Linked DNA regions of Homo sapiens. The protein of the gene in region 4 interacts with the protein of the main gene of each other region in a biochemical or structural test. Each region holds a gene or a part of one and is shown on either strand. Other genes may lie near its edges. The genes, in order: FZD4, DENND5A, SHROOM4, PALS2, SLC16A3, GJD4 and PDLIM2.

Region 1 (3,885 bases), on a different chromosome or scaffold from region 4:
CAAGTCATTGTTTTTTTTGTGTGTGTTCATTTTGTTACTTTTCCAGTTCTTCCTTTGTTCTGTTTATGTGCCAATGTGCACAGAGAAGATCAACATCCCCATTGGCCCATGCGGCGGCATGTGTCTTTCAGTCAAGAGACGCTGTGAACCCGTCCTGAAGGAATTTGGATTTGCCTGGCCAGAGAGTCTGAACTGCAGCAAATTCCCACCACAGAACGACCACAACCACATGTGCATGGAAGGGCCAGGTGATGAAGAGGTGCCCTTACCTCACAAAACCCCCATCCAGCCTGGGGAAGAGTGTCACTCTGTGGGAACCAATTCTGATCAGTACATCTGGGTGAAAAGGAGCCTGAACTGTGTGCTCAAGTGTGGCTATGATGCTGGCTTATACAGCCGCTCAGCCAAGGAGTTCACTGATATCTGGATGGCTGTGTGGGCCAGCCTGTGTTTCATCTCCACTGCCTTCACAGTACTGACCTTCCTGATCGATTCTTCTAGGTTTTCCTACCCTGAGCGCCCCATCATATTTCTCAGTATGTGCTATAATATTTATAGCATTGCTTATATTGTCAGGCTGACTGTAGGCCGGGAAAGGATATCCTGTGATTTTGAAGAGGCAGCAGAACCTGTTCTCATCCAAGAAGGACTTAAGAACACAGGATGTGCAATAATTTTCTTGCTGATGTACTTTTTTGGAATGGCCAGCTCCATTTGGTGGGTTATTCTGACACTCACTTGGTTTTTGGCAGCAGGACTCAAATGGGGTCATGAAGCCATTGAAATGCACAGCTCTTATTTCCACATTGCAGCCTGGGCCATCCCCGCAGTGAAAACCATTGTCATCTTGATTATGAGACTGGTGGATGCAGATGAACTGACTGGCTTGTGCTATGTTGGAAACCAAAATCTCGATGCCCTCACCGGGTTCGTGGTGGCTCCCCTCTTTACTTATTTGGTCATTGGAACTTTGTTCATTGCTGCAGGTTTGGTGGCCTTGTTCAAAATTCGGTCAAATCTTCAAAAGGATGGGACAAAGACAGACAAGTTAGAAAGACTGATGGTCAAGATTGGGGTGTTCTCAGTACTGTACACAGTTCCTGCAACGTGTGTGATTGCCTGTTATTTTTATGAAATCTCCAACTGGGCACTTTTTCGGTATTCTGCAGATGATTCCAACATGGCTGTTGAAATGTTGAAAATTTTTATGTCTTTGTTGGTGGGCATCACTTCAGGCATGTGGATTTGGTCTGCCAAAACTCTTCACACGTGGCAGAAGTGTTCCAACAGATTGGTGAATTCTGGAAAGGTAAAGAGAGAGAAGAGAGGAAATGGTTGGGTGAAGCCTGGAAAAGGCAGTGAGACTGTGGTATAAGGCTAGTCAGCCTCCATGCTTTCTTCATTTTGAAGGGGGGAATGCCAGCATTTTGGAGGAAATTCTACTAAAAGTTTTATGCAGTGAATCTCAGTTTGAACAAACTAGCAACAATTAAGTGACCCCCGTCAACCCACTGCCTCCCACCCCGACCCCAGCATCAAAAAACCAATGATTTTGCTGCAGACTTTGGAATGATCCAAAATGGAAAAGCCAGTTAGAGGCTTTCAAAGCTGTGAAAAATCAAAACGTTGATCACTTTAGCAGGTTGCAGCTTGGAGCGTGGAGGTCCTGCCTAGATTCCAGGAAGTCCAGGGCGATACTGTTTTCCCCTGCAGGGTGGGATTTGAGCTGTGAGTTGGTAACTAGCAGGGAGAAATATTAACTTTTTTAACCCTTTACCATTTTAAATACTAACTGGGTCTTTCAGATAGCAAAGCAATCTATAAACACTGGAAACGCTGGGTTCAGAAAAGTGTTACAAGAGTTTTATAGTTTGGCTGATGTAACATAAACATCTTCTGTGGTGCGCTGTCTGCTGTTTAGAACTTTGTGGACTGCACTCCCAAGAAGTGGTGTTAGAATCTTTCAGTGCCTTTGTCATAAAACAGTTATTTGAACAAACAAAAGTACTGTACTCACACACATAAGGTATCCAGTGGATTTTTCTTCTCTGTCTTCCTCTCTTAAATTTCAACATCTCTCTTCTTGGCTGCTGCTGTTTTCTTCATTTTATGTTAATGACTCAAAAAAGGTATTTTTATAGAATTTTTGTACTGCAGCATGCTTAAAGAGGGGAAAAGGAAGGGTGATTCACTTTCTGACAATCACTTAATTCAGAGGAAAATGAGATTTACTAAGTTGACTTACCTGACGGACCCCAGAGACCTATTGCATTGAGCAGTGGGGACTTAATATATTTTACTTGTGTGATTGCATCTATGCAGACGCCAGTCTGGAAGAGCTGAAATGTTAAGTTTCTTGGCAACTTTGCATTCACACAGATTAGCTGTGTAATTTTTGTGTGTCAATTACAATTAAAAGCACATTGTTGGACCATGACATAGTATACTCAACTGACTTTAAAACTATGGTCAACTTCAACTTGCATTCTCAGAATGATAGTGCCTTTAAAAATTTTTTTATTTTTTAAAGCATAAGAATGTTATCAGAATCTGGTCTACTTAGGACAATGGAGACTTTTTCAGTTTTATAAAGGGAACTGAGGACAGCTAATCCAACTACTTGGTGCGTAATTGTTTCCTAGTAATTGGCAAAGGCTCCTTGTAAGATTTCACTGGAGGCAGTGTGGCCTGGAGTATTTATATGGTGCTTAATGAATCTCCAGAATGCCAGCCAGAAGCCTGATTGGTTAGTAGGGAATAAAGTGTAGACCATATGAAATGAACTGCAAACTCTAATAGCCCAGGTCTTAATTGCCTTTAGCAGAGGTATCCAAAGCTTTTAAAATTTATGCATACGTTCTTCACAAGGGGGTACCCCCAGCAGCCTCTCGAAAATTGCACTTCTCTTAAAACTGTAACTGGCCTTTCTCTTACCTTGCCTTAGGCGTTCTAATCATGAGATCTTGGGGACAAATTGACTATGTCACAGGTTGCTCTCCTTGTAACTCATACCTGTCTGCTTCAGCAACTGCTTTGCAATGACATTTATTTATTAATTCATGCCTTAAAAAAATAGGAAGGGAAGCTTTTTTTTTTCTTTTTTTTTTTTTCAATCACACTTTGTGGAAAAACATTTCCAGGGACTCAAAATTCCAAAAAGGTGGTCAAATTCTGGAAGTAAGCATTTCCTCTTTTTTAAAAATTTGGTTTGAGCCTTATGCCCATAGTTTGACATTTCCCTTTCTTCTTTCCTTTTTGTTTTTGTGTGGTTCTTGAGCTCTCTGACATCAAGATGCATGTAAAGTCGATTGTATGTTTTGGAAGGCAAAGTCTTGGCTTTTGAGACTGAAGTTAAGTGGGCACAGGTGGCCCCTGCTGCTGTGCCCAGTCTGAGTACCTTGGCTAGACTCTAGGTCAGGCTCCAGGAGCATGAGAATTGATCCCCAGAAGAACCATTTTAACTCCATCTGATACTCCATTGCCTATGAAATGTAAAATGTGAACTCCCTGTGCTGCTTGTAGACAGTTCCCATAACTGTCCACGGCCCTGGAGCACGCACCCAGGGGCAGAGCCTGCCCTTACTCACGCTCTGCTCTGGTGTCTTGGGAGTTGTGCAGGGACTCTGGCCCAGGCAGGGGAAGGAAGACCAGGCGGTAGGGGACTGGTCTTGCTGTTAGAGTATAGAGGTTTGTAATGCAGTTTTCTTCATAATGTGTCAGTGATTGTGTGACCAAGGCAGCATCTAGCAGAAAGCCAGGCATGGAGTAGGTGATCGATACTTGTCAATGACTAAATAATAACAATAAAAGAGCACTTGGGTGAATCTGGGCACCTGATTTCTGAGTTTTGAGTTCTGGAGCTAGTGTTTTGACAATGCTTTGGGT
Region 2 (4,616 bases), on a different chromosome or scaffold from region 4:
TCCTCCCCACTTTTCTCCCCCTAGTTCAGGCAGGTTAGATACAGGGAGGAACAGGTGCTATGGCTCCGAGAGACAATGGCTATAACCTCTAGGTAAACCTCCCCAAGGGAAACAATATTTGAGAGAAGTACCCAGGAGAACCTAGGAGAGAGCCTAGGCTCAGCCTTTGGGGAAGCCAGCTGCCTTCTACAGCTCTTAGTGGCAGCCTCCCAGAACAAACCGTAAGAGTACTTCCTTCTGGAACAATAATAATAATCCAGGCTGGGGGCTCATTGGCTCATGCCTGTAATCCCAGCACTTTAGGAGGCAGAGGAGGGCGGATCACCTGAGGTCAGGAGTTCGAGACCAGCCTGACCAACACGGTGAATCCCTGTCTCTACTGAATACAAAAAATTAGCCGAGTGTGGTGGTGCGCGCCTGTAATCCTAGCTACTTGGGTGGCTGAGGCAGGAGAATCACTTGAACCTGGGAGGCAGAGGTGCAGTGAGCCGAGATTACGCCATTGCACTCCAGCCTGGGCAACAAGACAGAACTCCGTCTTGAAAAAAAAAATCTGTAATATTTACTGAGTGATTTCCATGTTCCAGGCAGTATTCTCATTGTTTTACCTGTACTTGCATTTACCTTATGTAATTGTCTCAAAAACCATGACGCCAGGCACTTAGAGATTAACTTGCTCAAGGTCAAAAGTAAATGATCGTCAGGATTGAAATCCGAGCATTTTTTTCTAGAGCCCATGCTAGTGACCACTATACCTGTGTTGCCTTTCTGGCCTCTGATCTCCAGTTTCCAACAAAGACACATCTGCCTAGCTTCTATGGGAAAGGAAATCGGAGGGTCCTAGGACAAGGACCAATAGGTAAGTTTCCCTTCGCCTCCTCCCTATCCTCTTACAGGAAAACAGGTTTAGGGGTGGATCTGAGAGTTTTCACAGAGTGAAGAGGAAGAGGAGCTCCCAAATGGCAGGCGCCTCTGGAGGCTTCCAGAGAAAAAAGGAGAGAGCGTGGGAAAAGGGCAGGCTGGGAGGTGGGAGCGGCGAGGAACGGGGAGCTGACCACAAGCCCAGGATTCCAGACCAGGCTTATGTCTCTTAGACTCAGCGTAACCTTGGATAAGTCCTTGCTTCTTTCTGAGACTCAGTTTCCCCGTCTGTAAAATAAGGGTAAATATAAAACCGGCTCATCCGCCCCTGCCAAAAGAGAGGACAGGGAGAAGGCCCTGTCTGGGGTCTAGGCTGACACGCTGCAGCTAGGATTAGGTGAGCTTCCGAGCTCAGTCGTGAGACCCCATCCTCATGGCAAGGCCGCGCTAAGATCTCTGGACCTCTGCTTGCTGGGTGGGTGGTTGGGGGCAGAGCATGGGCCAAATGCCCGGCTCTGCAGGCTGCGCCCACTCTTCTCGCACCTCCTCAGCCCTCCCTAAAGGAGTCTCAATCCCGGGGGAGTGGCAGTTGCGGGCGACCAAGCAGTCACCGGCTGCGCTGCGGCGACCTCCCGGGAAGCTGCGGCCGGCGGGGTCCGAAGAGCATCACGTCATCCTTTCCCCCAGGAGCCCGCCCCCTCCCAGACGGCGCCTGCGCAGGCGCGGTAGGAGGAGGGTCACGGTGGGGGCTGTCCACGCGCTCTCCGCCCTTCTCCAGGCTCGCTCGGGCCGCGGCGCTCTCGGCTAGCTGCAGCGGCGGCGGCGCGGAGGGGAAGGCATCCAGGATGCGGTGCGGGGCGGCCCGGTGCCCCCCCGCCCCGTCACGGCAGCCGCGGCGGCCGAGGGGACCGGGCCAGGGCCGGGGGCGGCGGCCCGAGCCGCGGTAGCGGCGGCGGCGGGAGGGGCGGCCTGAGGGCGGACGGGCGGGCGCCCGGGTTGCGGGGGCTCGGTGCCGCTCCGCACTGCCCGGCCGGTCTCGGCCCCGGCGCCATGAGTGGCGGCGGCGGCGGAGGGGGCTCGGCGCCCAGTCGCTTCGCCGACTACTTTGTCATCTGCGGACTGGACACGGAGACCGGGCTGGAGCCGGACGAGCTGTCGGGTGAGTGCGCGCCGAGCCCGGGGCGCTTTCCCGCGCCCGCTGTCGTCGGGGACCCCAGAAGAAACCTTCCTTCAGCCCCGCTTTGTCCCGGGAGCCGGGCGAGTGTCGGCCGGGAGGACCAGGGCGGGCGCGGGCGAAGGGGGCTTTGGACTGGAGGGGGGAAACGGATGAGGGGCTCTGAGCCATGAGGGGTCCAAACCTACGGCCCGCTGCGCAGTGGCCACGTCTTCGGCGACCAGAAAGAGGGAGGGTTGTGTGTTCTCAGTTTGGTGTAGGTTGAGTGACTTCGTTTAAAATAAAGGAAAGCTTGTCCTCTGGCACCCATTAGGGAGGGAAGGCGTCCCACGTCCTAGTGAAAGTAAGTTCCACCCAGACTTAAAAAAAAGGAAAACAAAAACTTGGTGAGTTTATCTGGCCACTTCCCAAGAAGCTTGTGATACTAGTTCCTCAAAACCGTTATACCCCAGCCCTGGGCTGGGCCCCCTGAGTCAGATTGCAGCTCTGCGCGTCTGGATGGGATATGAAGTAATAAAGTGAACTTGGGCGGCACCAAGAAGAGTAGGAACTCCCTTAGCCTTGGAAAGGGCTTGTATCCCGGGGCCATGCCTTTTTTGAAAAGTAATTTATGTCCTTTATGAGGACAGAGGCGTTTGTGAATAAAAGGGTAGCAGCATTGTAGTTGGAGAGGCTTGGTGTGTTCTGATGCGTTTCAAGTCATATTTGAAAGGGAAAGTGATGAGGGGAGTCAAAGATGGGGCCCTGACCAGATTTGGCACTCACTGCAGAAGGCCGTGAAAATTATACAGTCCCCGTGAATTTTCCACTGCACTGTCATTGGAGTCTTTGAATTGTAACAGTTTTGAAAATAAGTTTTTGTCTGGAGTTTCCAGTTAGTGGGTTTCAAGTGGGTGGAGGTTTGTCGGGTTGTACTTTAAGGTTGTGTCATCCTGATGAGGGGGACTCCTTTTCACTTTTCTGTCACTGTAAAGTTTCTCTTTCGAAAGTGATTATCCTGTTGACTAATCTTACTCGGCTTCAACGATGACAAGACAGTTTTGTTTTTGGGCACCAGAAAAAGTCCAGTGTTTCTTTTTTTTTTTTTTTTTTTTTTTGAGACGGAGTCTCGCTCTGTCGCCCAGGCCGGACTGCGGACTGCAGTGGCGCAATCTCGGCTCACTGCAAGCTCCGCTTCCCGGGTTCACGCCATTCTCCTGCCTCAGCCTCCCGAGTAGCTGGGACTACAGGCGCCCGCCACCGCGCCCGGCTAATTTTTTGTATTTTTAGTAGAGACGGGGTTTCACCTTGTTAGCCAGGATGGTCTCGATCTCCTGACCTCATGATCCACCCGCCTCGGCCTCCCAAAGTGCTGGGATTACAGGCGTGAGCCACCGCGCCCGGCCCAGTGTTTCTTATGAAAAAAAAATTAGGCGGGGCGCGGTGGCCCACCACCCGGCGGCTCAGGGGTAATCCCAGCACTTTGGGAGGCCGAGGCGGGCGGGTCACCTGAGGTCAGGAGTTCGAGACCAATTTGGCCAACATGGTGAAACCCCCGTCTCTACTAAAAATACAAAAATTAGCCGGGCGTCGTGGCGCGTGCCTGTAATCCCAGCTACTCAGGAGGCTGAGGTAGGAGGATCGCTTTAACCCAGGAGGGGGAGGTTGCAGTGAGCTGAGATTGCGCCAGTCTGGGTGATTGCGCCACTACACTCCAGTCTGGGTGATAAAGCGAGACTCTGTCTGGGAAAAAAGAAAAAGAAGAAAAAAGCATGATAAATTCATGCTTTAACAAGGTTAGAAAAAAATGAGCTATTTCCTCAATAGCAGGTGGAGAAAATATGAAGCAGTAATATAATTAATATTAGGCTTTTTGTCGGGGTAGTTTTATGGTTTCTAATTTACTTTAAAAAAATTTTAGTTTTAGGCCGGGCGCGGTGGCTCACGCCTGTAATCCCAGCACTTTGGGAGGCTGAGGCGGGCGGATCACGAAGTCAGGAGATCGAGACCATCCGGGCTTACAGGGTGAAACCCCGTCTCTACTAAAAATACAAAAAATTAGCCGGGCGTGGTGGCGGGCGCCTGTAGTCCCAGCTACTCAGGAGGCTGAGGCAGGAGAATGGCGTGAACCCGGGAGGCGGAGCTCGCAGTGAGCCCAGATCGCGCCACTGCACTCCAGCACTCTAGCCTGGGCGACAGAGCGAGACTCCGTCCAAAAAAAAAAAATTATTTTGATGAGTACCTAATAATTGTTCAAGTTTATCTTTTAAGGTCTTCAAATTCTTATAGTACAGATGTTTTTCATCTTTTTCATATGTAGTAAGTTTGTGACTTTGATGTAATTTTTGGAATTCGGTTCAGGGTATTGGTGTTGGAAGGGACCTCAGAGGGGAAAATGAGGCCCAGGAAGGACAGTGGGGCCTGTATACACTAGTTAATTGCTTGGTCCAGTGCTCTTCTCATGACATTAAACTGCATCTCATTGGCCTGGCTGGAGGTCTTTAGAAAACACTAACATGTTGAGAAATATTAAAAACAACATAATTCTTCTCAGTAAAAGAAACTAAGGTGGTGGAATAAACTTTTTTTTATGCGTGTTTTT
Region 3 (3,885 bases), on a different chromosome or scaffold from region 4:
TGAGGCAACATGAGGTACAGTGACTTCCTCAAGGTCACCAGACATTAAATGACAGACCTGCAATTTGCACCTGGACAACCTGACTCTAGAATCTGTGCTTCAAGCCGCTATGCTATACTGCCAAAGGGACAACTTGAGATCATATAAAAGCCTACATGTAAGGAATTTTCTGGCTGGAGTATATCTATGTTAGCAGATAATGGAGAATATTCTGGAGGGAATATGAAGGTCTGAACTTAGGGAATTCCTATCTACAAGAAAAATATTTAGGGTATGTGTGAAAGTTCTGTGTCAGAAGGTGTTATAAAGGAAAAAAAGGATGTGCTAATTGGAGACTCAGTTCCCCAGCATACACATCCCTGCATCATATTATAGTATATCACATTAGGCACTATATTCTAGGGATCCTTTCCTTATCACCTCCATTAATAGGGAAGTGATTATAGGTGGTCTATGTAGTAAACATCAAAGCAAAAAGCAGATTCCTTTCACAGAGCACTGAGAGGAAATGCATAGAGTCCATAAAGCAAGCTATACCTATACCTGAATCAGTTATTAGACTTAAATAATACTTAATTATTCCACTAGCTGGCTTCTGTGTGTATCCCAGCATTTTTTAACAGAACAGTATGTAGGTTATAAAGGTACTAGAGTTTAACTTGGCTGAAATTAGGATATCTTTGTTTGCATTTTAGATTCAAAATATTATGCATCTATATGTCCCTTACAAAATCTTAAAGCTGCTTCCTTCTGGCTAGGACACTGTCCTCTCCTAGGGTCTGGAATAGAATCTTCTTCAAGAGCCCAGAGATCGTGGGATGATATAGCAAGCATAGTGAGCTACCTGAGATCTTGTGATAAAGTTACTTTATCTCCCTGGGCCTTGCTTTTTTCATCTAAGAAATGGAGAAGATGAATGGTAACTATTTCATAGGTTTATTTTCATGATTAAATCAATCATTACCCAAAGTGCTTAGAACAATGCAGGGCACATAGTAAGCAATCAAAAAAATTAGCTATTTTGGGAATGATGCTGTTCCTTAAATCTCCATCACTCAAAGGAGCATCTAATTGATTTTGTAGTCACAAGCAGAGCTGTGTGCAAACAAATGTTTTCCCTTACATCCTAGAGTCATTAAAAATAAATCTCTGGAGCAAGTTACAAGATCTCTAGTAATAGTGATTTCTTTCTGTCTGGCCAAGGTGCCAAGGCAAAGGGAGCTACACAAAGAAGGAAGAACCAGGGCTTGTAACTGCTGCCTCTGGTACACCTTGCCCTACAGGAGAGAAGAGGACCCTGTGACTCCTGGCCTATGGAAAGAACAAGATCTCTCTGGGAGAGGCTGCCTAGGAAGGCAAAATAAGCATGGGCTTTGGAGTCAGACAGCTCTGGCTTTGAATGTTTGCTGTGTAACTTGGAATTAGTTAGTTTCCTCATCTGTCAAATGGGGATAATAATGGCTAATAGGGCTATTGGGAGGATTAAATGAAATAGATACATAATGTCTGGCAGTGTCTGGTATATAAGAAATACTTAATAAATGTTCATCCATTCATTTATTTGTTCTTTCTTCTTAAATATTTGTTAAGTGCCTACTATTGGGAGGTCATTTTCCCTTTTCCCTGCTATGATAGATAACAATCACAGGTATTTTTCACAAAATGTTTTCTAATTACAATGAGAATGCTCCCCAGGTAGAAGAACAGCTTGAGAAGCAGCCACATGGGATCTAATGAAGGATTCTTTTTTTTTTTTTTAATTATACTTTAAATTTTAGGGTACATGTGCACATTGTGCAGGTTAGTTACATATGTATACATGTGCCATGCTGGTGCGCTGCACCCACTAACTCATCATCTAGCATTAGGTATGTCTCCCAATGCTATCCCTCCCCCCTCCCCCCCTCATGAAGGATTCTTAACAGTGCCTGGGAGCCAGGCCCTGTAAATGCTGTGCTTATGGCATCTTGGGCTGGAAAACTGATCAACTAGCTCCACATAGACAAGTCACAGATTTGTCTGACAATAAAAGACATGATAACAAGGTACTTCTAACCGCAACAAGTCTCAGGCAAATTCCTGCTATAAAGAGAGTTAAGGAAAGCACTTATAAGCCACCTGCCTCCCGAACCTCAGCCCCAGCAGAGAGTGGGCTGAGCTCTCCACAGGAGAGCAGGTGGAGCTGCTGACAGCCAGAGCACTGAGCAATAATAGCAATGATGGTCCTGGGGCTTTTGCTTTGGAGCAAAAGAAATTAAAAAAAAAAACCCAACCATGCACTATAGGGCATGCAGATGACAACTGGCTCAGTGGAGTGAACAAACACTGGCAGTCCTGCTGCCAGAACACACTCTTGCTTTGGCCTCCCTGCCCAGGCAGCTCACCCTGTCAACTACCACCTATTACACACCCACATGAATGCAAAGAGGCAGGTAAACAAGGAGGGGGAGAAAGTGGAAGAGAAAAAGAATGTCCTTATCTATTGTAAGGAATTATCAAGGCATGAAGCACCCAGCCCCAGGAATACCTTTGATGCTGGTGGTTGTGGGGGGACGAGTTTAGAAGCCCAGGCTACTTGTCCTAGAGCAGAGGCAGGTCAGGTTGTGAGCTGGCCTCTTATTCTGGAGGGCAAGCAGAAGAGAAGGCAGGAAAAGTGCCTGAGCCAGGTTTCTGGGAAAGACCTAGTATAGGCAACAAGTGTTCAATGCCTTTGGGATCAGGGGCCAGAAATTGATGGATACCATGAAGACACACTAAGGAAAAGTATAGTACTTTAATAAAGATATTTAGGGATAAGAACATGATATTTACTGAGCATGTACTATGTGCTAAGCATGGAGCTATATCCTTTATGTAGATTATCTTAATATTCATAACAATCATGTGAAGCAAGTATCATTATACCCATTTTCCAGGTAAGAAAACTGAGGCTGGGAGCAGTTTAACTGGCCAGCCTGAGGTCATCCAGTTAGTAAATAGTGGAGGTAAAATTCAAACTTGTGCTGCCTGCCTCTTCAGAGACCTAGTATCTTTCATATGTACTTACTTGGCGGATTCAGTGGCTTCCTGTCCCGATGTCCTCCAAAGCCCACCAATGCCATAGTAGCAAGGGGGCTGAGCCTGCTCAGGTTGAGATCCCAAGTGACCCCTTATTGGAGGCAAGAAATCACTGGAATGGAGTGCAAAGGATTCTTGCTCTGCTGGGACACTTTGTGAACCCTGTCTCGAGCCCTCCAGGTGGCCAAAGCTGAGGGGTTGTGGCTGCTCTAGGACCTCCTCAGGATTGAGAGCACAGGAACCAGAGGTTTCTGAACTGAAATACTGGGGTGGCAGCTCCTCTTCCTCCTCCTCTGCCTCCTCCTCCTCCTCTTCCTCTTCCTCTTCTTCTTCTTCTTCCTCCTCCTCCTCCTCCTCCTGTTGCTTCTGCTGCTGCTGTTGCTGCTTCTGCTGCTGGGCTGCACGAAAGAGCCTGTACTTCTCCCAGTTGGGAGGAGGAGGGCGAGGAGGAGGAAAGGCCTTCTTCCTGGCTCCGAGAAGATCCGACTGGGTCTCATCACCTTTGCTAAAGAGCTCCCTCCTATGCTGCCCCCAGGCCCGGGTGCTTTGGGGCGCCAAGCTGATGTGACTCTCTGAGAAGGCACGGCTGCGCAGTGGGTGGGGCATGGAGGCAAGGGAGCTCCCCTCCTCATAAACTGAAGTTTCCTCTGATTTTTTCAAAGCATGTTTGAAGTCTCCAAGGAGGTCAAGAGAAGAAATTGCTCGGTAGCTTGACAAGTCCAGTGCTGGGTTCTCAAGGCAAGGATGGAAAGGGGTTGCCCATGAAAAGCTAGTCTTGGAATGAGCCATTTCCCTGCAAAACATCAGATGAGTACTGAGAAAAACAAG
Region 4 (3,885 bases):
GATGATGGACATGTTCATTATTTTGGTTGTAATGGCTTTCATGAGTACAAATATGTGGCCAAACTGATCAAGCTGTACATGTTAGGTAGGCACAGCTTATTATGTGTCAATTATACCTCAATTAAGCTGGCAAAAGATTTAGGTGACAATGAGTAAATTCAATGTGTTGATCTTGTTTGAATCCTTATTTGAACAAATCAACAGTAAAAAAAAAAAAAAAAAAATCTTGGAGAAACTCAAATATAGACTGCATGTAGATGATAGTAAGATACTGCTTATTAATTTTTGTTGTATTAATGGTATGTTTTAAATGTCTTTATCTCTTAGATATAAATACTGAAGTATTTACAGATGACATGATATCAAAGATTTGCTTCAAAATAATTCAAGGTGAGGAGGAAGTGGGGAGGGGTCTAATTAAAACAAGAAATTGCCACGATTATTGAAGCTAGGCGATCGGCATAGGGACTCATTTATTCCCTCTTTTGTATATATTTTTGAATTTCCATTAAGTAAAAAAGTAGACAGGAAAAAAAGGAAAAAACATGTAATAGAAACTAAACATCAGAACACCCCACTTTACCAATGATAAACCATATAATAAACATGCCTGTTAATGATCTCGGAGCCCAGTTACCCCACTAGTAAAATGAAGGCGTTCAATTAATACGCATATTTTAATATTGGTCCATTTCATTTTACAAAGGGGAACTAAACTTTTGATTTAAAATAAAGTGTACAATGATTTTCAAGTAAAAGAATACTGTTCCAGATCCTAACTACATCTAATTAATTTTCATTCTGTAGCACCTTATATAGCATGTTTATTTCATAAGCATAATTAGCTAAGAGTTGGCCAGGCACGGTGGCTCACGCCTGTAGTTCTAGCACTTTGGGAGGCCGAGGTGGGCAGATTGCCTGAGGTCAGGAGTTCAAGACCAGTCTGGCCAACATGGTGAAACCCCGTCTCTACTAAAAATACAAAAATTAGCCAGGCCTGGTAGCGCATGCCTGTAATCCCAGCTACTTGGGAGGCTGAGGCAGGAGAATCGCTTGAACCCGGGACGGGGAGGTTGCAACGAGCTGAGATCGCATCAATGCACTCCAGCCTGGGTGACAAAGCAAAACTCTGCCTCAAAAATAAATAAATAAAAATAAATTAGATAACAGTTAAACATGCTCAAAAGAAAAGGAAAGATTTTAGAAGGAAAATCGTATGGTTAGCTCACGGTCAGAAGCTTGGTAGTGATTCCTGCATCCACCACAGCCTTGTGCATGGCACGTAACGTCTCTAGCTCCGGAGCCGCAATAAATACCACATAGGGCATAAACTCTGATGTCCTCAATACTTTCAGTGCCTGTGTAAAAGAATAATTATAAGCCAATTTATACAATATTAGAACTAGAATTCTGCTACCCTTTAGTATATATCAAAGGCTGTTTGCACTTGTTCTATGAATTAAAGGACATAACTTAATACTTATCCCTGTTCTGTCCTTCTCATTCCATATAGTACTTTCTTAAAACAGTGATCCATTTATTTTGTTTTGAACTCAGTCTGTTCCTCTTGAACAAAGTATAAAACAATGATCCAAAAATCATCAAGAGTGATGTAAACTCTTTTTTATGTTAATTGTAGAATTCTGTTAATACTCAAAAAGTAGAAATAACCTCAATGTTGATTAATTGGAGAGTGGTTAAATGAATATATATTCATACTATATAGCAATTACAAAGAAAAAAAGCTCTACAGTAACTACCACAAAAAGATCTCCAAGGAATAGTTCTATTTAATAAAACCCCTGAAGAATCTATATAGAATTTTTCCATTTATGTAAAAAGAAACAACAAAAACAGAAAACCCATTACCTTATATATATTTGTATTTAAGGCATAGTGAAATGACTAGAAAGAGACATAAGAAACTATTAACAATTTTTATCTCTGAGTAGGGACGTGAGGTTGGGCTGAGTGTAGCGGAGTGGGAAGGGGTAGGTGACAGAAATATAGAGTGACAAAATGAATAGTGTAGAGGTGTGCATGTGTGTCAGGTAGGAGGGGGAGTGACTTTAATTTTTTATTCTTTATATTGCAGACTTGAGTTTTAAACTTAACATTTCTTAACACAAGCACTTATGCATTACTTGAACAGGTAAATAAATACATACTAAACTTCTATTGTAGATCTAATCACACAGTTTCTATTGCCACCCAAGCCTCTGTTGGCTAATTGTTCAGAGATTTATTTAACTAGCTATGTATACATAATAACATTCTCTATCACCCAAAGGTAATGGAGGGAGTCACCTTTCCACCCTGACAAAACAAACAACCCCAACCCAACAACCCCGACACACATGAAAAAAACTCCACAGAAAATAAAATATAAAACAGCTTTGGAATCCAAGCAGCTTACTTGTGGGTTGACATCCAGAATGCAAGTCCGTCCAGTTTGGACAACCTCAAGAATAGAATCAATTTTGGTTCCATAGAGATTTCCTTCATATTCCCCATGTTCCAAATACTTTCCAGCTTTAATATCTGCTTCCATCTCAGATCGTGACACAAACTTATATGCCTGGCCATCTTTTTCATCTTCCCTTGGTTTCCGTGAAGTAACTAAATAAAATAGTGTTGAGATTTTTGTACAAAGAAATTTTAGGGCATAAAAAATAGACTAAAATACATAGGGTGGCTTAACGTTTTTCCACTGGGTGCAGCAAACTGTAGGCTATGACCAGATCTGATCTGCTTCTTATTTTTGTAAATAAAGTTTTATTGGACCACAGCCATACTCATTTGTTTATGTATCATACATGGTTTCTTTCCCATTAAAATGGTGGTAGTAATTGTGACAGACTGTATGGACTGCGAAGCCTAAAACTTTACCATGTGGCCCTTTAATAGAAAAGTTTCTTGATACCTTAGGGGAATATTTTAAGAGGTAGTCCCCCAAATAAAATTTGTATCCAAAAATATGCTTCTTAAAATCACTTTGAAACTCAAAGTATATTTACCTAGCAGCAGAGCCTTCAATGAAGTTCTTAATTATGGTAAGTGTTTGAGGCATGTTGTGAGTGAGTATCTTTTCAACTGACCAGCACTCTCCTTCTCCTTAGGAATCTATTACATCTTTTCTTTCCACATTAACACTTCCTAACTGCCCCAAAACGTGAGCAAGCAAAGTTCACCTGTTCTTAGTTGTGATACCAATTTTGTAAAGTGCAGTTTTACCCACAAATTATCTATCTTTTATCTTACCTCAAAACCAACGCTTTTAGCTTCCTGTTTATTGATATTCCCAAATGTTAACTGTTCTATTTTATACTTCAGTGGTAGAGCTAGACGCCTCATTATTATTATGGTCTATTAACCTCCTCTCCTCTGACCTGACATATTATTTCTGGGAAAATGAGATTGAATAGCTCAAGTCAAAATTTAGAAGTAGGAGATCCTTTTGTCTGATATTTTACAGCTTTGAATACTTTCAGAGACATACAACCCTTTGCAAGTTGGTCTGTGCTAGGAACGGTTATTACCATTTTTTAAACTGTTGCAAATGTGTACTCTCTGACAACTTTGTTAACAACAGCTTTGAAGAAGAAAAGTAATTTTTGAGCGTGTTATTTCAAGCTTAGCCTTACTCTGGGCTTTGCTGGATCGGATATAAGAAGTATCCTGTTTCTATTAGCTAAGTAGTTGGAGAATAACTGATGGAATTATTAACTACACCAAACTAAACTAAGAAAGTAATCCGAATAAAAAGATGACAGTGTTTTGACTATTTCTAATAAGCCTAAGACATAGAAAACTTTTATAAGAACAAAATGAACTTCAAACTCATGCTCAAAAATAAGGGTCAAATGAGATCATTATGTATAATAG
Region 5 (4,645 bases), on a different chromosome or scaffold from region 4:
GAGGTCCCAGGCTCTCTGGCTCTGTCTCCCTCCCCCTGTTGCTGCTCTACGGTGGGGGTTCAGGGTTCAGGGATCAGGGCCAAGCTGTAGGCAGATGTGGAAGGTGTCTCGGTGGCTTCAGTGGGGGCCCCAAGCCCAGCTGGCAGGCCTGGTGACTCAACAATCTGGGATGGGGAGCACGGTACCCTCGCCTCCCCGGCAGGCAATACCCCATAGGGGACCCATTCCCGCAGCTGTCCACGGTGCCTCGCACCCCTCTGCTGCTCTCCCTCCTCAGAAACTGATGAATCGCCTGGTGCAGGAAGATGGGAGCACCACCTGCCCTGGGCGGGAGCACCACCTGCCCTGGGCGGGAGCACCACCTGCCCTGGGCGGGAGCACCACCTGCCCTGGGCGGGAGCACCACCTGCCCTGGGCGGGAGCAGCACGGGCCAACTAAGTAGAGTCTTCATCTGTGAAGTTGGAGGCCCCCTCACCACTTGCCACAGGCCTGTGTTCTGCTCACAGGCACGTGCCCTCATCTTGATGTTTGGGGATGGGGGTGGTTGGGCCCCAGGTAGGGGTGAGGGCCAGACCCAGCCTCTGTGAATGCCAGCGGGAGGGTGGGCTTGTAACATTACATAGAAAGAACAGGCGGCCTTACTGGACCTGATGTCCCGCAAGGCTGGGCTGCAGATGGAGAGCCAAGGCCCACACGGCCTCACTGTCAGGGGTGGCCTCCCCTTGCCCTCTGGAGGGGTCCTCCATTGATACCCCCTGCCTCCTTTGTGTGTGAAGGCACGGGCTTACCAGTGCCTCGGTCCCCGAAGCCCCCGGGTCCGGGAGGGGCCAGTTAAAGCATTCCTGTGGCCCTGGCAGGGTGGCCCTGACAACTAGACTCCTTGGTCCAGGCCAACAAAGGCCTTACTCCCTGGAGCCACCTCAAACCTCAGCACCCAAAGCGGCCCGTTATTTCCATGTTGCAAATGAGAGAAAACAGGCTGGGAGAAGCACCTCACGAGGTCCAGCGGGTGGGCAGCCCTCGCCTCCCCGAAGGTGGGAGCCGCCCCGGCCTCCGCGTCGGGTTCTGGGCCGCGAGAGGGGCGGGGCAGGGGCGCAGGGCTGGAGTCGGTGGCTTTGTAGGGCCCCGCAGGGCGCGGAGCCACCTGGGGAAACGGAAGTTCAGGGAGGGCGAGGCCGTGCCCCACATCCAGGCAGCGCAGGCCGCGGGCCGCTCCCCTAGCCAGGAAGAGCCGCCGTCCGCACCGGGACCGGAGAGGAAGCGGAGGTCTGAAGGGGGACAGGTCGGACGTGGCCTCAGAGAGGGAGGATGTGGGCCCCGGAGCTGAGCCAGGCGGCCGGAACCCCACGGGACCCGCGCGCACCTCCCCACCAAAGGGGCCCCGGCGTTGGGGGGCGAGGGGTCGCTGCCCTGGAGGACGTTGGGACCTGCCGCGCTGCGCTCCGAGGCGGGGAAACGGAGGGACGGCGGGGCGGAGGGGCGAAGCGAGCCTGGACTCCGGGGGAGGCGAGGCCGGGAAGACCCAGTCCCGAGGAGCAGAGGGGGCGGGCCAGCTCCGGGCCGGGGGCGCCGACGGGGCCGGTTCCGGTTGGGGGGGTCCCTGGGCCCGGCGGGGTTGCGGGACGCGCCGTCGGGGAGCTGCGGCCCGGGAGCCCGTCCGGAGGCGGCGCGGGGTCCGGGCGGGGCGCGCAGGGGCGGCGCCAGGCGGTGACGTGCGCGGGGGACGTGCCGCGCCAGCGACCCGAGCACTTAAAGTCGCCCCCGGCGCGGAGCGGACCGGCAGAGGCGGGCAGAGGCGGCGAGAGGCGGCGAGAGGCGGGCTGAGGCGGCCCAGCGGCGGCAGGTAGGCGCGGCCGCGATGCTCGCGCGCGGGCCGGGGCCCAGGAGCTCCCCCGTGCCGGGCAAGGGGGCGACCTCGGGGTCCGCGCTCTCACCCCCACCCCGCCCACTTTGTCCATCAGGTCCGGGGGCGCCCGGGGCATGGACTAGCCTTCTCGACCCCGAGCGGGCCCCACCGAGGGCTCCCGAGAGCCAGCCGCGCCCCTCCGCGCCCTCGCATACCTGGCTGCCCAGTCTCGTCTCCCCCGGTCCGGCCCGGCGCCCACCCGTCGGGCTGCCCTCAGGGGCTGGGCTCGGGCCAGGAGATGGCTGCGCCGGCGGCCAAGCCCGGTCCGGGTATAAATAGCTCGGTCCGCGGTGGCGGGGGGCGCGGGCTATATTTGGTGGGGCTGCTGCAGCCCTCCCTGTATGGGTGGCCTCCCCGAGGGAGTGGGGAGCACTTGCGCTCGGGCCGTGGCGCTTTCCCCTGTTCGCAACACCCTGAACACTCCCCGACCCACACCCGCCCTTGGGCAATGACTAACAGCCCGAGACCGTGCAGGGAAGTGGGGGACCCTCTCCAGAGCCAGGCTGGGCTCCCTGGGTTCGCCCTACCTCCACCCCTGGCCCCCAGCTCGTGGGAAAACCAGGCGCAGCCTTTGGTAGCCTCCCACTTCCTAACCCACGCCTCAGTTTCCCTATACGAAAAGTGGGTTGGTCAGGAGCCTCCCTGGGTGTTGGGCCAGTCAAGAGACAGGAGCCGCAGAGTGGAAGGGAAGCCCTTAGCTCTGGCCGGGGCCTCCAGGGGTGGCTGGAGTCGGTGAGGGACGATGGGGGGAGCCGAGGGGCGGCTGTCCTCCTCTCTGTCCCAGAGGCATGGGCTGAAAGGGTCCCTCTCCTGGTGATGGCCAGAGTCAGGCCTGCTGGGCGGGAAATGGCAGTTGGCCCACCCCAAGGCCCAGGGGCTTGTCCATGCTGAGCACAAGGGTGGGAGGTCTTGTGTCTGTTGGGGCCGGGGAGTCCAAGGTCCCAGCTTCACTGCACAGGCCTGGAAGTCAGGTGGGTGCTGGCCTGACCCTGCTGAAGGAGGGTCTATTCCGCCAGCGTGGTGTGGAGGCGGCTGGGCTCGACTCCCTCATGGAGGGAAGGAACTGAGGAGGTGCTAGGAGGCCGTGGGGGGGTGTCTGCCCCCAGAGAGGCTTTGAGTGCATGGGGGCTCTGCCGTGGCACGTGCAGCGTCTGTCCCCCAGGGCCCCATGGTGTGGACAGAGTCTGGGGTGGGCACCTGGAGGCCTGGTCTCAAGGCAGGCTTGGTAACGACCCCATGTGACCTTGGGCAGGGCCCGCCATCCAGGCCACCCAGAAAGCCATGTGGCCTGCACGATCAGGCCAGACCCCACTGACTGGAGCGGGGCACTTTACTTTGGAGGGGCAGCTACCAGAGGGCTCTATGGATCCCAGCCCAGCCGTCAGGCCGGACGGGTCCCCCCTACTGGCCTGCAGTGACCCTTATGCCAGGCTCGGCTGGCTCAGCGGTGGGTCCTGGGGTGACCTGGCCACGTGGGACAGAAGGGCCTGTGCCGCTCCCTCCAGTGAGGTGCCAAATGTGGGCCACACTCTGGGCCCCAGCGGGGGCCTTCCGGGCAGTGGCGCAGAGCCATTGGAGGTGCCCGGGCCCTGGGGCAGGGGCGGGGCGGGAGCAGACAGAGCTCAGGGCGTCCTCCTAGCGTCACCTGCCCGAGTCAGGCCCATCTGTGAAATGGGCCACGCCGGGCAGCCGCACGCAACGGAACCGAACCGCCGGGCTCCTGCTCCGAGACCCGCAGTTCACGAGTCGACGCCCCCGAGTCCCGAGCCGCGCCCACTGGTCCCACCTCTGCAGCAAGTGGAGTCGGCCCCGCCCTGTGGCTTCGAGGCCCCGACGCCTGGCGCGGCTCCCGGGCTCCGCTGACCCCGGTGGACCCGCGCGCCGGCAATTACGGTAGCGTCCAGTAGGGCGCCTACTGCGGGCAATACGGGGGCTCCTCCCATGGCGCGGTCACGTCCCCCACGTCCCGCGGCTGGCGGGGCGGGGCCGGGCGGAGCATCCTTCCCTCCCCCTCCCCCGGGTGGGCCCCGCCCAGCCTCGACCACCCGCGCCGACCCCCGCCCGCAGAGCCGGGAAGCCGGAACCCGCAGGCGCCCTCCAGCCGTCCCTCCGGCCCGGGCGGGGATTGCGCCGAGGAGGGGCCTCTCCTGGCGAGGGTGGAGTTTTGGGTTCCCCCCTTCGCCCCGCACCTCCCGCCTTCCTGCCTCCTCCCGGTCTTCACCTTCCCCCCCGGGTCCCCACGACGCCCGCTGGGCGGCGGTGGGGTAGGGGGCGCCTCCTGACCCGACTCCCCTTCCAGCCTTGGCCTTCAGGCACTGGCTTTAGGGTGGAGGGGCGGCCTTGCGGGGTCCAGGAGGCCTCGGAGGTGGGGGACGGCGGCTCTGGACCAGCTCCGGCCCCCACCACCTCCCGGCCCCAGGGCGGTGACAGCCTTGCGGAGAAGGGGTCTTCAAAGCTCTGAGACCCCGCAGTGCCAGCTCAGGATTGAAGCCTGCGGCGGCACATGCAGCCTTCCTTTCCCAAAGGGGACTTGCGCCCAGCCCCACTTGGGGCACCAGTGGGGGCTCCTGGCCCTGGCCCTGGGTGGGAGTGGCCAATCCGCAAATGAGGCCTGTGTGTCTGCCCCGCCGGCCCCTGCCGTCGTGATGTAAGCGGACACAGAGCGGCAGGGCACGGGCTGCGCGAGGGGTCTGCGGGGGTCAGAGGTGGGGCGCAGGGCCCAGGCCTGGGGCAGCCCC
Region 6 (4,579 bases), on a different chromosome or scaffold from region 4:
GATGGGGTAGACTTCAAGGAGGAAGAGCAAAGGTGACCAGGATGAGAAGGGAGATGGGTGGGCATGGGCTGCTCAGAAGATGCCCTGAAGGGTGGGACCAGAGGAGCCAACCCTGAGAAGCGCCTGTCACTGACACTGGGTCATTCTTTACATTTCAAAATCATTTTCACATCTCTGGTCACATTTGCATATCACAGTCACTGTGAGTGGGTGAAGAACACATTCTTTTTTTCTGCTTCACTGATGAGAAAACCGAAGCATGAAAAGCTGCAGTGATTTGCTCATGGTCGCGCAGGGCTAATTTATTCCACATTTGGGATGGGCTATTTCTATCACACAGCAAGAGTCAGTAATTGCTTTCCTGATATTTCATTTTTTTTTTAAAGCCAATACCATGAGCAGTCTATTAGGAGACAAATTCTCCTTTATTTTATACTTACACCCTGTGACTATTTCAATATTTTTACTTAACTACAATTTCTCAAATTTCCTTGCTCATGTCGAAGCATTTGACTAAAATATAGCAAAACCACTGTTCCTTTCAAGGGGGTCAAAACGTTTTCCGTGGATGGGAGCATGTCATGTGAGCAAAGATGAAAGTAGCTTTGTTGCACTCTTCTGGGAATCTTTCTAGGGATATTACTAAAGTCAAGAATAGATCAGAAATGAAGAAAAGATGGGGATATAAAGAATAGCTTTCATGGAAAATTGAAATCATTCCTTTTAAAGTTTACAATTTCCACCCTGATCATAGATCCCCAACCCTGCAGGATGGGTTCTTCCCAGATATGAAGGTGGCTGCAGCGATAGGATTTTGACGCAACTGTGATTGATGTCAGCAGGTCCAGACCGTGATATTTCATGACAGATTTAACAGACATTTATTAAGTAGATTCAATGGGAACAGCTCCAGGCTAGATGGGGCTGGGAGATACAAAGGGAAGATGTAATCTGTGAAGGTCGTAGAGGCCAATTAGGGATTGAAATCCCACGGATATGGGTTGTCGTACACCCACTTCACACCAGTTGCTCTTATTCTACACCATCATTTCACATAAGCCTCCCACAAATGGCAAGTGGAATGGCATGATTCTCCTTATTGCAAGATGAGGCTATCTGGAAGGATCCAATGACTTCCCCAGTGAGTAGGGGGCTGCCCCGGGCTTTGCACCCAGGCTTTTGTCTCCAAGCGAAGAGTTGTCACTCACTGCACAGGAAGCAGCAGGAGAATAACCAAGTCACGGTCTAAAGTTGGGACACCCAACTGAGTTTCAGATTTCTGCCTGCACCAATGACACAGGAATTCAGAATAAGGGCGAGATCCTTGTGGGTTCGTGTGATGGTGGCATGGCGATTCATGCTTGATTGAGAAGACAAAACGTGAACACTTTAAGGGCTTCTTGCACAAGTGAAGTGGTTGTGGAAATGTTTTCAAGGAGGAAATGCCTTTTTAATAGAGAAATTTACTTGGCTAGTTAGCAGAAGTTTTCTTTCTTGGGTTAAAAGTAGTTGCTGCTATTATATCCTGAAGCATCTGGCTGTCCTGGTGGGGACATATGAGCGCTGCCACAGGCCGGGAATATCCCAGGCGAGTAAGAATAGCCCACAATAAGAGATGACTGCTGCTTGCTCTGCTGGTCACTGCAGTTGTCAGGAATGTTTCGCCTCAGAGGCAAACGGCTTAGGGCCGTCTCAACTTGGAGACAGAAAAACCCACCTCCTACTCCTGGCTCAGACCTTTGCTTTCTTATCTCCAGCTCACACCTTTAAGTCTTATGTAGTTAAAGGACATTTATCCGCCTCCTTGGAGAACACAGCCCTCCAGTGTCTCCTGCAGCCTGGAGCCTGGGACATTCTGGAAGCATGGAAGGCGTGGACTTGCTAGGGTTTCTCATCATCACATTAAACTGCAACGTGACCATGGTGGGTGAGTATTGGGACCATCTCCAAACTCCTGCGCTGTTTTTATTTCCACTGCCATGGTGGAATTGAGTCCTTAAAGGGTCCAGGTATTTACTCATTTTCAGTGTGCAAGCACCAAGCTGAAAGTCCACCCACTCCCAAAAGAAAGGGCTGTGCCTTTCTGGAGGGAAGAGAGCTGAGGCTTCTAGTTTCTTTGAATGGTTCCGCGGTTCCTCCGTCATGTAAGGGAGTCTTGCGTTTGACATTGTTCTCTCACAGATCATCCTGTGCTGACACTGGGGTGCTGACTCCAAAGACCAAAGCAGGTGGAGGGGTGTTTGTGTGCAACCCTGGTGTGGCTACGTTACCAGGAAAAGGAACAGAACAACAAATGTTAATCAGAAGGTGATACCTTTAGGTTTTATTCTGGAAGCTTGGTTTTTTTTTTTTGTTTTTGGAGACAGAGTCTCACTCTGTTGCCCAGGCTGGAGTGCAGTGATGCAATCTCAGCTCACTGCAACCTCTGCCTCCCGGGTTCAAGTGATTCTCCTGCCTCAGCCTCCCGAGTAGCTGGGACTACAGGCGCCTGCCACCACGCCCAGCTAATTTTCTGTGTTTTTAGTAGAGACGGGGTTTCACCGTGTTAGCCAGGATGGTCTCGATCTCCTGACCTCGTGAGCCACCCGCCTTGGCTTCCCAAAGTGCTGGGATTACAGGCGTGAGTTACCACGCCTGGCCTGGAAGCTTAATTTTTAAGGAGTAGCCATTTCTCTTGTGCACTTTAAACCAAATCCCAAGTTTAGTTATTTTTTTTAACAAAGAAAATAATAGATTTTTGTTTAATGCAGACGACTCACATTTTCAGAGAGGTATGGGGGTCAGAAAAGGATGAATATATGCCGGAGATGCAGTTGATACTTTTCTGGCTCATTATTTTGTAGATTTAGACAAAACCAACTTGATGTTAAAAGTTCAACTCAATGACTCATCACATAATGATATTATTCTTTGTTTGACTGTCTTTACATATTTATTTTTGTTTTGTTTTTATGATGTCAGGCGATGTTTCTCTCATCACAAAACACAATATTCACAAGTTATTTTGGCTGAGTTTTAAACATGTTTCGAAACAGTTGGCCGGTGCCATGAAAATAGGGCTTGACAGTTATTTTGGTTTTCTAGCTTGGTGTCATTCCTTCACGATACATTGAAGAAAGACAAGCCCCATTCATTCCTAATAACTGGAAAAGGGGAAGAGGAATTCTGAATGATTAAAAAATCTGAAAAATGGAATGTTCATAAAGAAATTCAATTTCAAGGGCCGTAGACTAACATTAAATACAAGCCCTGTGATTAAATAGAGATCCCTGGACTGTTGTCATAAGTAAGATTTACTGAAATCAGCAGCTCGAATTGGCAGTTACAGAAATACACCAACCTCTTTTAAAAGGCTTATTCTCCTAAGAAGAAAATTTAAATCTTATTTAAATCATTAATTTGCTCAGCCAAACTTTCTTTCTGGACCTATCAGTCCAGGAGACATTACCAAAAGTCTGAATTAGCAGACAGATTAAAACACTTTTAATATAATGCTTTTTAAAAATCTACTCATCTTGAAGCATCTTACAAACAAGGATGTTCAGTGCTCAGTAAATATTTGTCAAATGAACTACCTGATGCTGTGAGTAAAGACAAGCTGACAGGTGTGGTGGCTCATGCCTGTAATCCCAGCTACTCAAGAGGCCAAGGCGGCAGGAGCACTTGAGGCCAGGAGTTCAAGACCAGCCTGGGCAATATAGCACGACCCTGTGTCCAACAACAACAACAACGACAACACAAACAAACAGAAAACTAAAGACATGCTTATTGACGTTTCAATTTCCCAATCTCAGCCCCAATAGACACTTTAAAGCTGTTACTCAGGGCAGTGTATTCGGGGTGATGAGGCCATGCCCGCTTCCTCTCTTCCAGGAAAGCTCTGGTTCGTCCTCACGATGCTGCTGCGGATGCTGGTGATTGTCTTGGCGGGGCGACCCGTCTACCAGGACGAGCAGGAGAGGTTTGTCTGCAACACGCTGCAGCCGGGATGCGCCAATGTTTGCTACGACGTCTTCTCCCCCGTGTCTCACCTGCGGTTCTGGCTGATCCAGGGCGTGTGCGTCCTCCTCCCCTCCGCCGTCTTCAGCGTCTATGTCCTGCACCGAGGAGCCACGCTCGCCGCGCTGGGCCCCCGCCGCTGCCCCGACCCCCGGGAGCCGGCCTCCGGGCAGAGACGCTGCCCGCGGCCATTCGGGGAGCGCGGCGGCCTCCAGGTGCCCGACTTTTCGGCCGGCTACATCATCCACCTCCTCCTCCGGACCCTGCTGGAGGCAGCCTTCGGGGCCTTGCACTACTTTCTCTTTGGATTCCTGGCCCCGAAGAAGTTCCCTTGCACGCGCCCTCCGTGCACGGGCGTGGTGGACTGCTACGTGTCGCGGCCCACAGAGAAGTCCCTGCTGATGCTGTTCCTCTGGGCGGTCAGCGCGCTGTCTTTTCTGCTGGGCCTCGCCGACCTGGTCTGCAGCCTGCGGCGGCGGATGCGCAGGAGGCCGGGACCCCCCACAAGCCCCTCCATCCGGAAGCAGAGCGGAGCCTCAGGCCACGCGGAGGGACGCCGGACTGACGAGGAGGGTGGGCG
Region 7 (2,547 bases), on a different chromosome or scaffold from region 4:
TCGGCATTTAACAAACCCTCCAAGGGACCCGACACACACACCTTTGAGAACCAGGATGGAAAACATGCTTTTTCAACACACATTCCCTATCTCTGCACAGCAGGGGGACTGGATATTCTCCCACTCTGCAGATGAAAACACTAAAGCCCAGAGAGGTTAAGGGATTTGCCTAAAGTCAATCACCTGCCCCTCCCACACTACACACTTCAGAAATTTACCTGAGGGGGGGTTTCAGCAACCTTCCAGAGAATGTGGTTGCATTATAAATGCCACTTAATGAGAAAAATGAGCCCACCTCGGCTGGGCATGGTGGCTCACGCTGTAATCCCAGCACTTTGGGAGGCCGAGGCAGGCGGATCACCTAAGGTCAAGAGTTTGAGACCAGCCTGGCCAACATGGGGAAAACGCGTCTCTACTAAAAATACAAAAATTAGCTGGGAGTGGTGGCGGGAGCCTGTAGCCCCAACAACTCGGGAGGCTGAGACACGAGAATAGCGTGAACCTGGGAGGCAGAGCTTGCAGTGAGCTGAAATTGCACCACTGCACTCCTGCCTGGGCAACAGAATGAGACTCCGTCTCAAAAAAAAAAAAAAAAAAAAAAGAAAAGAAAGAAAGAAAAGAAAAGAAAAATAAGAAAAATGAGCCCACATCGGGAAAAATGCAGCCTGCTCCAAAGGGGGAAGAAGGGGAAAGAGCAAGATTTTCCAAGAGGATGTGCTGTACCTCCGGGCAGATCTCCAGAGGCTTTGAAATGATCAAAGAGAAATCAAAAGGGATGGGAAAAGGAGGAGAGGGAGAGGAGATGCAGCCGGAAGCAGCTAGCCTAGGCTCCTAAGAAGCCTGTAACTAATGCCCCCAAAGCTGTGCAACACTGCTTCCCCTAGAGTCCCCGACTGGGTACCCAGTGCTAGCCCCTGATGGGCCCGGCCCTTCCTGAAAGCATCCAGTGCCCTGTCCCCCTCCCCACTCCCCTGTGAAGGCTCAGGTCCCCCACCCCCCTCCACACTCACGCGATGCTGGTACTGCACTTCTCACAAGTGTGGAGCTTGGGAGGGGTGGCCAGGGCCCTGGAGGCGGGCAGGGAGGACTGGGGGCTCAGTGAGCTGGGCAAGAAGGCTGGCGTGCCACCTGGGGGCAGGGCAGACAGACATGTGGTGAGAGCCCACCAACCACAGCATCCTCCCAAAGATGCTCTGAGGAGGTGGTCTTGGAAAGCACCCTTATAAGAGAAACCCTAAAGTCACGCTGACAGTGGCACCAGGTAAGGAGGAAGGTGATCTTGCCAGATCCATGGCTGAGGCTGGGCAAGGGCATGAAGGAGGCAGGTACAAGGCCGAGTTTGCCCATCCAAGGCCACCTGGGGCCATCTGTGCTCAGTGTCAGGTGAAGCAGGTGCTCCCTCTCTAATGACCTGGTAATAACAGTGTGATTAGATAATAACTGGAGATGGCAACAGGAGCGCAATGCCTCGGTGTGGCTTTCAAAGTGCTTTTCCATGCCTTGTCACATCTGAGCTCTCAAGCCACACGAAGATGAAGCCCAGGGCTACGGGGCAGCTGTCGCCCGTCTGCAGCTAAGGACGCTGAGGCCTCCTTGGCAAAGTCACTGCTCTCTCCCTGTGCTGCCTCCTGGGACCTTCTGAGGCCTCAGGGTCAAAACAGACCAGATTTGCTCCAAACCTTCTCACCCCACCCCCTGTGCCTCTGCAAATGCCCCTTGGAGCTAAACATCAGCGTTAGAACCAGCCACCTGCCAATCTCCAGGTGTGCCCTGTCCATATGGCCTCTTACATTTGCTCCCAAAATGGAAATCTCACCTTCAACCTCACAGTTGTTCCTGGAGGCCAGTTTCCAGCCTGCATCTCTGTACTCCCCACTCCCCTGCTCCCTTTCCATTGCCACCCCAATGGGACTCAACTGAGGTCCAGGAGCCCACACCAGCCACTGGGAAGGAGAGCCTTGGAGACAGCCAGGCGGGCCAGTGCCCAGGGCCAGGGGCACCATTTCCTGGGAAACCAGCTTCTCTCCATTTTAAAATTCAAAGTCATAGATGAATTATGAAGCCTCTCTGGCCACTCTCCTACCTGTCCTGTCATCTCCCTCCCCTTCTCCCCACTGTTCTAGAGGGCATTGGTGCTGAGCACCTTAAGGACAGGGGCTGTGGGAGTAGTAACTCCCACAGCAGCGCTCACTTCCATGGGAGCTGGCCAGGCCCATCTGCCCCAATGAACGGAGCTCCCCAAGGGCAGGAGTGGGGTCATGGCCACCTATCCCCAAACTCTGCACACATCTGGTCCCTCAGATGGGCACAGTCAGTGTCTGTCACATGAATAACGGAACTCTGGCAAGCCTCCGTATGTCTTGCTCGCCTGGCATCAGTATTTAATGGCTTTCCTGGGTTAGGGCACTCCTCAGCCTGATTCCCTTCCCGAGGGCCCTCACTGCAGGGGCTTGGCCTCCACTGGCGCCCTTTCATGCTATCAGGCCCCCATTCTCTCACTCCCACACCCCAAAGCCCTCTGGCCGCCAGCCTCCACCTTCCACAGTG

The links.
Region 1: the proteins of PALS2 (region 4) and FZD4 interact in a test that uses a peptide from one of them, tested with the Homo sapiens proteins (one large-scale study listed by IntAct).
Region 2: the proteins of PALS2 (region 4) and DENND5A interact in a test that uses a peptide from one of them, tested with the Homo sapiens proteins (one large-scale study listed by IntAct).
Region 3: the proteins of PALS2 (region 4) and SHROOM4 interact in a test that uses a peptide from one of them, tested with the Homo sapiens proteins (one large-scale study listed by IntAct).
Region 5: the proteins of PALS2 (region 4) and SLC16A3 interact in a test that uses a peptide from one of them, tested with the Homo sapiens proteins (one large-scale study listed by IntAct).
Region 6: the proteins of PALS2 (region 4) and GJD4 interact in a test that uses a peptide from one of them, tested with the Homo sapiens proteins (one large-scale study listed by IntAct).
Region 7: the proteins of PALS2 (region 4) and PDLIM2 interact in a test that uses a peptide from one of them, tested with the Homo sapiens proteins (one large-scale study listed by IntAct).

Annotation. Positions count from the first base shown.
Region 1 is NC_000011.10:86,948,632-86,952,516, reverse strand, and holds part of FZD4 (frizzled-4 precursor), read left to right. Parts: exon of another isoform or gene 1-46; coding exon 47-1,375; 3' UTR 1,376-3,885. UniProt on the Homo sapiens protein: Receptor for Wnt proteins.
Region 2 is NC_000011.10:9,262,365-9,266,980, reverse strand, and holds the start of DENND5A (DENN domain-containing protein 5A), read left to right. Parts: upstream 1-1,630; 5' UTR 1,631-1,911; coding exon 1,912-2,020; intron 2,021-4,616.
Region 3 is NC_000023.11:50,604,335-50,608,219, forward strand, and holds part of SHROOM4 (protein Shroom4), read right to left. Parts: intron 3,851-3,885; coding exon 3,047-3,850; intron 1-3,046. UniProt on the Homo sapiens protein: Probable regulator of cytoskeletal architecture that plays an important role in development. May regulate cellular and cytoskeletal architecture by modulating the spatial distribution of myosin II.
Region 4 is NC_000007.14:24,677,865-24,681,749, reverse strand, and holds part of PALS2 (protein PALS2), read right to left. Parts: intron 2,620-3,885; coding exon 2,417-2,619; intron 1,359-2,416; coding exon 1,230-1,358; intron 1-1,229.
Region 5 is NC_000017.11:82,227,263-82,231,907, forward strand, and holds the start of SLC16A3 (monocarboxylate transporter 4), read left to right. Parts: upstream 1-1,779; 5' UTR 1,780-1,844; exon of another isoform or gene 1,845-4,645. UniProt on the Homo sapiens protein: Proton-dependent transporter of monocarboxylates such as L-lactate and pyruvate. Plays a predominant role in L-lactate efflux from highly glycolytic cells.
Region 6 is NC_000010.11:35,603,705-35,608,283, forward strand, and holds the start of GJD4 (gap junction delta-4 protein), read left to right. Parts: upstream 1-1,636; 5' UTR 1,637-1,863; coding exon 1,864-1,927; exon of another isoform or gene 1,928-2,261; intron 2,262-3,821; exon of another isoform or gene 3,822-3,873; coding exon 3,874-4,579. UniProt on the Homo sapiens protein: One gap junction consists of a cluster of closely packed pairs of transmembrane channels, the connexons, through which materials of low MW diffuse from one cell to a neighboring cell.
Region 7 is NC_000008.11:22,590,132-22,592,678, reverse strand, and holds part of PDLIM2 (PDZ and LIM domain protein 2), read right to left. Parts: intron 1,129-2,547; coding exon 1,011-1,128; intron 1-1,010. UniProt on the Homo sapiens protein: Probable adapter protein located at the actin cytoskeleton that promotes cell attachment. Necessary for the migratory capacity of epithelial cells. Overexpression enhances cell adhesion to collagen and fibronectin and suppresses anchorage independent growth.